Regions from separate parts of the Homo sapiens genome. Here region 1 is linked to region 2. Evidence: fine-mapped expression QTL. A gene starts in region 2. The other region holds a variant in brackets. All regions are shown on one strand. Distances are from middle to middle.

Region 1 (4,386 bases), 150 kb after region 2:
TAAGTAAGAAGGTGATTCTCATGAACCAAGAGGACAGATCCTTCTGTTTGGGGTCAGGGTTTCAGCAGTCCAGTGTGGCAACACCAGTTGGGTGGCCCCTGCTGTGCAGCATCAGTTTCTTCTTGCTTAATTGGAACTGTTTTCCTGATAGACCATAGTTTTGGAGATGCAGGGACAGATGGAAGGGCAGGAGGGGAAGAGTTGCGCAAATCATAAAAGAAGCCGTGGTGAAGACAAGCTCAGGAGCTGCCAGCCTGAGTCCACCTTCTCCAGGGTCTCTTACAAGCTCTTTACAGACAGCCAGAGCCCGGGTGGGGTCAGCCAGCTGCCCCTCGCCACCCAGCTCCCAGCAGAAGGGGAGGGGATGCGGCTCCACCCATGCCCTCTCTTACCCCCATCTTCCCACTCACCTGTCGGGCTGAGGACCACGAAGGCAGAGACTCCATACATTCTGCTCCTTTTCGTGTTTCTGGCACTTTACACGCCGCCCTGCAGTGAATGTGTGAGTGAATGAATGAGTGAATGGCAATAAGGAAAGAGAGTGGTCAGCAAGGCGGCTGGAGGGGTGGAGGCCTGAGCGGGTGTGGGGCCAGCGGTGAGCCTGGCACGTGTCATCCTCTCTAGGGGAGGGAGGGTCTAAGCACATGGGTCTCCTGTGCCCAGAGTGGCCAGGGCCTAGGGGTGCAATGGATGTGGTCCAGCCATGGCAGGCCACCACGCTTGTTGGCACCGTGGGATAGGGCCACGCAGAAGCAGGGCAAGGTCTGACCCCCGCTCCTGACAGCTCCCACTGGCTGCTGATGGAGAGCAAAGCCACGGTCAGCGCCCACTGCTGGACGCTGCAGCAGGGATGGCAGCCAGGGGGGCCCCCAACAGCTTAGGGCTGCTCTGTCCCCCTGGAGAGGTCTCACTACAGCCCTTTCCTTTCCCCCGTCCCCACTCACTGGCTGCGGAAACCCAGCCTCATGAGTTCTGTTTGTCTGAAGAAGCATCGTTGGGAGGAAAAATTATCAAACTAAGCTCATGCTATCAGTCAGGCCCTCCTCCTACTCCGTATGTCTTTATTTTTTTACTGAAAAAAATAAAATACAGTAAGCACTCGGATGAGAATATTAATCCATGGAGATTGCCCCCTTCAGCATTCACTGTATGAGGCCTTTTTATATTTGCTTTTTTAAAAGAAAAAAATATATATATTTTTTGATGGCAAAAACCTGGACACACATATTTTTGTAAAAATCACACATGCTTGTTACAAATGCATTGAAACAGTGCAGAAAAGTACACAAATGTGTGTAAAGAAAATCACTGTCGTCCAGCCCTCCAGAAACGAACAACAGTAACAACGGGTGCACATCCTTCAAGACACGGATGCAAATAGAAGATTCAAAATATTTCGTAAAAATGGGATCCTCCTCTTGATGCTAATTTTAATCTTAATACTTAATAAATAATAGTGCATTAATAATTTTACTAGAAACTGAAGGAATTTCATTCCATTCAGAAATATATTTTGTCACACAATCAATATCATTTCCCAAAAGGTCTCTTTAACATTAGAAGTGTATGAAAAGCCAGGTGCGGTGGCTCCCGCCTGTAATCCCAGCACTTTGGGAGACCGGGGCGGGCAGATTATCTGAGGTCAGGAGTTCGAGATTAGCCTGACCAACATGGCGAAACCTCGTCTCTACTAAAAATACAAAAATTAGCTGGGCGTGGTGGCAGGTGCCTGTAATCCCAGCTGCTGGGGAGGCTGAGGCAGGAGAATCGCTTGAACCCAGGAGGTGGGGGTTGCAATGAGCTCTAATCACGCCACTGCACTCCAACCTGGGGGGACAGAGCGAGACTCTGTCTCAAAAAAAAAAGTAGTTTATGGAAAAACATTAAGTCTGAAGTCCTTAATGAATTTTAATGTGATTTTTAACTCCCTGAATCAGTTTTGATTGGGGGTGTCTACTGACTTTGACAAATACGGACATTGATTCTCCATCACTTCCCATTTCCTGGCTTCCAACTCTGGATTTTTTTTTTTTTTTTTTTTTTTTTTTGAGATTACTCACTCTGTCACCTAGGCTGGAGAGCAGTGGTGCGATCTCGGTTCACTGCAGCCTCTGCCTCCTGGGTTCAAGTGATTCTCCTGCCTCAGCCTCCCAAGTAGCTGGGACTACAGATGTGCACCACCATACTTGGCTAAGTTTTGTTTTGTATTTTTAGTAGAGATGGGGTTTAGCCATATTGGCCAGGCTGGTCTCGCACTCCTGACCTCAAGTGATCCACCCATCTTGGCCTCCCAAAGTGCTGGAATTAACAGGTGTGAGCCACTGCTCCCGGCCCCAACTCTGGATTTTTGTAGGCACATTATTTTTTCTTGCTATTCTCCAGGATCCTTCATTGTTCCTTCCTTGTTGGCTCTGTCCGACTTGCCTCCTGTGGGCTCCCACCTGGCTGCCTCCCACTTCTAATGCCCAAACTCCAGGCACCGTCTGCTGTCCGGGAGGATGGAGGTATGACCACGTCTCATTTGTCTTCCTGCTTGTGGAGCACCCTTCTTCTCTGTGTCCTTCTCTTACTGGGGCCAGGGCTGCCCCATATTCTGGC[C/T]GTGTCCATCTGTCCCTCACGCATGTGGACAGGCAGGCTGACCACACAGCCTTGCACCGCCCAGCACGCGGGGCTCAGGTCCTAACAACTGCTGACTGCTGGCTCAGGGCTGGGCACTGTTCCAGGGGATACCAAGGAACCAAGACCCCGTCTTCCTGGGCCGTATGCTTTTTGTTCTCTTGAGTCTTGCATTGCTCCCTTATTTGGGGTTCACCCATCCATCTTCAAAAGAGTCTTCCTTACCCTCTGCTGCCCCTGCCAGCTCTCACCATTTTAACCCAAAGACTTTAAAGACGATAAAGGCACTATCTCGAAGGCCACCACTGCCCTCCTGCAGGACAAATGCACAGCTTGGAGGTTGCCACCGCAAGAGGGTAAGAGGCCACCACCCCCACAACAGCTGACTCATAGCTCGGGTAAGAGGCCACCACCCCCACAACAGCTGACTCACAGCTCGGGTAAGAGGCTCCCAGTTTGCAGATGCGAAACCAAGGCTTGAAGTCACCTATCTTGCCCGAGATGACAGCTGGCAAGTGGCAACGCTGCTAGAGTCTGCCCGAGCCCTTAGTGCACTCCCGTAACCAGCAGGTCACACTAGGAGCAGCTACTCCAGGGAGAGGAAGAGCTGACACTGGGCAAACCCGCAGCTCCAGCCACCAGCAGCCGACCCATTGCCAGACACTGTGTTACATCTCCAGTCTGTATCAGGCCCCCAGGGCCCCCAGGTCAGGACTCCAACCAAGATTGGGATCCAGTTTGCTCAGCTCTGGCTTCTCCCTGGGGAAGTGTCTTCCTACTGAGCCACAGCAGAGAACATCATTCACTTGGGGCAGGAGTTGTCACCAAGGCCTGCTGGCTGCCACCAAATCTAGGAGACTAGAACAATGTCTGCCAATCCTGAGAGCAGGTCCAGAGGGGTAACTTTTATCTTTATTGCCTGGGCTGCTCTATCGTCCTCTTCCTTTATTCTCTTTGTGAATTTAATTATGGGGGGCACATAGCCGAGGTTTGTCTGCCTTCTCACTTCTACCCCAAAGGGAAGGCAGTTTGTTAAGGGTGAATTTTCTCCCCTTGGATTTCTATTTATGTATAAAAACTACCTTGGGCCGGGTGCAGTGGCTCACGCCTGTAATCCCAGCACTTTGGGAGGCCGAGGCAGGAGGATCACTTGAGGTCAGGAGTTTGAGACCAACCTGACTAACATGGTGAAACCCCGTCTCTACTAAAAATACAAAACATTAGCTGGGCGTGGTAGTGCACGCCTGTAATCCCAGCTACTTGGGAAGCTGAGGTGGGAGAATTGCTTGAATCCTGGAGGCGGAGGTTGCAGTGAGCCAAGATTGCGCCACTGCACTCCAACCTGGGTGACAGAGTGAGACTCTGTCTCAAACAAACAAAAAAATTCATCACGTAACGAAAAACCATTTGTTGGCAATTGAAATAAAATATATATGTATATATAATATTCTAATGAAAAAATATAAAAATAAAATGACCCAGTAGGTACAAATTTCTTTGTAATGGAAGACAAATGCTGATATAATTTAAATCACAATAACAGCCAATGGCCTAAAAAAGAAAGGAAGGGAGGGTTTAGAAGACTCTCGAGATAGCCCAGGCACAGGTGGAGGCCCAGAAAAGCTTTAGGTCAGGAGAAAGGCGTAAACCCCAGGTCACTTGCTATGTAGGCAGCTGCAGGGATGCAGGGCACCCACAGTGAGAGAGAGAGAAAAGGCTGCCCTGGGCTGGAGGCCACAACACCAGACCCCGAAATCCTCCTTTAAGAGG
Region 2 (4,386 bases):
AAAACCCCCAACTCAGGTTTGCTGGGCAATCCTTCTTTTCCACAGAAGCTGGACCAGGTTCTGTTACCATTAAAAAAATACTGTATTCAATATTTTTAAAGACAAGAAGGGAAAGAGAACAGGTTCTTGCAAAGAGAGGTACAGCCTCGACTCCTTCCAAGTACACACGATCTCCCGTGTACTCGGGGCCCACACCCAGCCAGCCATCACGGGACCCAGACAGGGTCAGATGGGATGCTGCCGGGAAGGCAAGGCAAGGCAGGGCCCTATTCCATCTGCAGCATCTGAGCCTCGGTTTGGATGATGTGTTGCAAAGATTTTTTACTTGTACAGCTGAGAAGCAGGTCACTTAGTTTCTCAAGGACCAGCCGGCCTCAGTGCACAACTGAAGGTCAAGCGACTCTTACAGCCCTGTAGCCTTGCCGTGTGACACCCAGGTGACCTGTCTCTGCCAAAGTGCTGACTGTGCTCGCAGTCCTTGGAATGCACTTAAGTTTTTAATAGAAAGGACCTATAATTAGGGCAGTATCTGATGCTCTGATCTGGGAGAAGGAGAAAAGGAAAACAGCCCCTAGGATTCCTGCCCTCAGTTCAGCACAGCACAGGACGCCATGAGATTTTCAAAACCTGACATTCCCCAGGGAAGGGCCGACCCTCTTCAGCGAGGCTTACTTGAAAGACGCTTGAATCGCAAAGTAAGGTCTTGGCTTTTCCCCACTCTCAGAGAGACTCCAGGAGGACTCCGAGACTCCCAGACCAGCCCTCCGCCCCTGCCCTCAATCTCAGAATTGCTGAACTCTGGAAAGTCAAGATCATCTAGAACAGAAATACAAGGGGCTGGGGCCTGAGGCTAGAAACGACCAAAGACAGAATAAAAAGCACAGTCCTTTGTAAACTGTACAGCAGAGACACGGCAGCTCGGGAGTGGCGGAGTGCACCAAGCTCACTGTGGCTTGGGGTGGGGTGGTGGCGTGGGACTGGCAGTTGCCGGCTCTCCAGCCCGGGACAGTTACCTAACTCGTCTCCCAGCCTGTTTCCCCATGGGCAGCAGAGACAGCCAGGACACAGTGAAGCAGGTCACAAGGGGCTCAGAGTGTCCTCCCCAGCCCCGTCCAAGGAAACAGGGCCCGGCTCTGGGGGCGAACTCTGTCCCCACTACCCCAAGGGGCTGTGCCCTGGGGCAGGCACAGCGGGGCTCCTTCGGGAGGGAGCGAATCTCGGGCAAGGCTGGCCTCCTCCCGCTGGCCCAGGACAGCCTCGGGGGCGCCAGCAGGCACTGCTTGCTGTGGGTAGGGGGTGTCCAACCTAGACGCGGCCTCTGGGAGGGCAAGACCGGGAGGGGTCGGCCTGTGTCGGGGGCTCCTGGAAAAGCAGCGCCACCGCCACCCACCTGACGACATGGAAGGCCCAAAGCAGGCGATCTGTGCGAGGCCCGCGCGCGGCGCGGACGATGCTGAGGTACAAGTAGAGCGCAATGGCCACGGTCCAGAAGAAGGAGCTGGTGTTGGCGAAGGTGGACAGCGCGCCCTGCAGCACGCAGTCCCACGACGGGCCCGCGAAGTTCTGCAGCACTCCGTAGAAGTAGGAGGCGGCCGAGAGCAGGTCGGCCAGCGACAGGAAGAGCAGCAGGCGCCGTGCCCGGCTGCGCAGGTCGGGCCACAGGGCGTGCGTGGCCACCAGCAGGCCCGAGCCGAGCGCGGAGAGTGCGCACGACAGCAGCACCACGGCGCGCTCCGACGGCACCAGCTCGGTGGGCGGCGGGGACGGCTGCATGGCGTGGGGGGCCAGGAGCCGGAGCGCCGCGAGGACAGAAGCCGGGCCGCGCGTGCGGCCACGCCGCCGCCGTCTGGGCACCGAGGCGCCCTAGGCTCGCGTCCAGGCGCCCGCCCCGCCCGCGTCCGGCCGCTCCCCCGCCCATCTGGGCCCCGGGCCCTGAACCCCGTCCACGCCCTGCGCCCCGCCCCTATATCCCGGGCCCTGAGCCCCGCCCACGCGCCGCGCCCCACCCCGGTACCCCGGCCTTTAAGCCCCGCCTACACTCCCAGCCCCGTCCCGCCGTCCCAGGCCCTGAGCCCCGCCCACAATCCGAGCCCCGGACACACGTCCCCCGGCCCACATGCCCTTCCCGCCCACACGCCCCCCCCCCGCCCGTGTGCCCCCGCGTTGAGACTGGGACTTAGAGCTCCGCCCACGCGCCCCGATCCCCTGTCCACAGGGCCCAGAGACCTGGGCCTAGAGCCTAACCCACGCGCCCCGCTCCGCCCACGCACCCCGCCACACCCCTGTGTTCCGGGCCCTGACCCTGGCTCAGGTGCCCTTCCTCGTCCCGTTGCCCCGGGCCCTGAGCCCCGCCCCCGCCACGCCCCTGAGGCTTCCAAGCTCCACCCGGTGCCCGAGGCTCCTGAGCCCCGCCCACGCCCTCACACCACGCCCCTAAGCCCCTAGGTCCCTAAGCCCTACCTCAGGGCACCCCCAGGTCCCAGCACCTGTCCCTCCACGCTCCTCCAGGCCCACCCCTGCTCTTGCCAGGTGTCTGGGACATCCAGTCCTGTGAGAGGAAGGGCTGGCATTTTTAGGGCTAATATTACTTTCCCTCTTTTCAGCCAGCTTCTGTGTGTGTTGTGAGTGGAAGGGCGTGAGGATCAGAGGCATTCTTTCCACTAGCAACAGAAACAGCTCTCGGGTATGATCCTCATTCCTTCAGCCGTGATCCCGACGTGTTCACAAGTTGGTGGTGACTTGGGGAAGCCGGCGTTTCCACCTTTTCTTAAAATAAGCATGCTATTTTTTAAAAACCATAGCTAACTAGGTGTGATTTTTAAAAAATGAAATGCTAGGCAGGGCATGGCTTTTTCTTTAAAAATTTCAAACTTTGTAATTAAGATGTAATTCACATACCATAAAATTGGCCCTCTTAACCGAACAATTCAGTAGTATGTTCACAAGTTTGTGCAACCATCATTATTATGTAATTCTACAACATTGTCATTACTCCCAAAAAGAAATCCTTATCCCTCAGCTGTTAGCCCTCAGTTCTCCCCGACAGCCCTGGCAACCACTCTTCTACCGTGGATTTGCTTATTCTGCACATTTCCTGTAAATAGACTCATATGCTCTGTGGCCTTTATGTCTGACTTTTTTAACTTAGCACGTTTCCAAGGTTCATCGTAGCATATGCAGTGCTTCATTCCTTTTACTGCCCCGTAATATTCCATTATATGGATATACCACCTTTTTTTTTTTTTTCTAGAGACGGAGTCTCCCTCTGTCGCCCAGGCTGGAGAGCCGTGGCATGATCTCGGCTCACTGCAACCTCTGCCTCCCGGCTTCAAGCAGTTCTCCTGCCTCAGCCTCCCGAGTAGCTGGGACTACAGGCACACGCCGCCACGCCCGGCTAATTTCTTTTCTATTTTAGTAGAGGTGGGGTTTCACCGTGTTGCCCAGGCTGGTCTTGAACTCCTGAGCTCAGGCAATCTGCCTGCCTTGGCCTCCCAAAGTGCTAGGATTACAGGCATGAGCTACCGCGCTCGGCAGGATATACCACATTTTACTTAGCTATTATTCATCAGCCGATGGACATTTGGGTTGTTAACACTTTTTAACTATTAAGAATAATACCACTATGAAAATTTGCATACAAGTTTTTTTGTGGGTGTATGTTTTCAATTCTCCTATGTGTATACCTAGGAATGGAGTTGCTGGGCCATACGCAACTTTATATTTCACCTTGTGAGGAACTGCCAAGGTGTTTTCCAAAGTGACTGTACATATCATTTTACATTTGCACTAGCAATGAAGGTCGCAATTTCTCTACATTCTTCCAAAACTTTTTTTTGAGACAAGGTCTTGTCGCCGAGGCTGGAGTGCAGGTACAACCACAGCTCACTGCAGTCTCAAATTCCTAGGCTTAAGAATTCTCCCACCTTGGCCTCCCCAGTAGTTAGGACTTCAGGTGCATGTCACCATGCCCCACTAATTTTTTTTTTTTTTTTTTTTTGAGACTGAGTCTCGCTCTTGTTGCCCAGGTTGGAGTGCAGTGGCGTGATCTTGGCTCACTGCAACCTCTGCCTCCCGGGTTCAAGCGATTTTCCTGTCTCAGCCTCCTGAGTAGCTGGGATTACAGGTGTGCACCACCACAACCTGCTAATTTTTGTATTTTTAGTAGAGACAGGGTTTCACTGTATTGGCCAGGCTGGTCTTGAACTCCTGACCTCAGGTGATCTGCCCGCCTCAACCTCCCAAAGTGCTGGGATTACAGGTGTGAGCCACCTTGCCTGGGCCCCACTAATTTTTTTTTTGGAGATGGGGTCTCACTGTATTGCCCAGGCTGGTCTCAAACTCCTGCCTTGGCCTCCCAAAGTGCTGGGATTACAGGCGTGAGGCCAC

The links. PIP is the estimated chance that this variant, and not a neighbour inherited with it, causes the effect.
Region 1: its variant is the best candidate, but not a certain one, in a credible set for the expression of GPR157 in whole blood (TOPMed, PIP 0.54).

Annotation. Positions count from the first base shown.
Region 1 is chr1:9,272,682-9,277,067 of GRCh38, forward strand. No RefSeq gene overlaps it. Among named protein-coding and RNA genes, the nearest start is that of SPSB1, 18 kb to the right of the region's middle. The variant C/T (reference allele first, on the strand shown) is at 2,599.
Region 2 is chr1:9,127,255-9,131,640 of GRCh38, forward strand. GPR157 (G protein-coupled receptor 157) reads right to left here and starts at 1,848. Exons shown (of 4, transcript NM_024980.5): 1 at 1,391-1,848. The coding sequence starts at 1,773. RefSeq lists silencers at 1,705-2,054, 2,115-2,434 and enhancers at 3,136-3,205, 3,226-3,345, 3,636-3,725.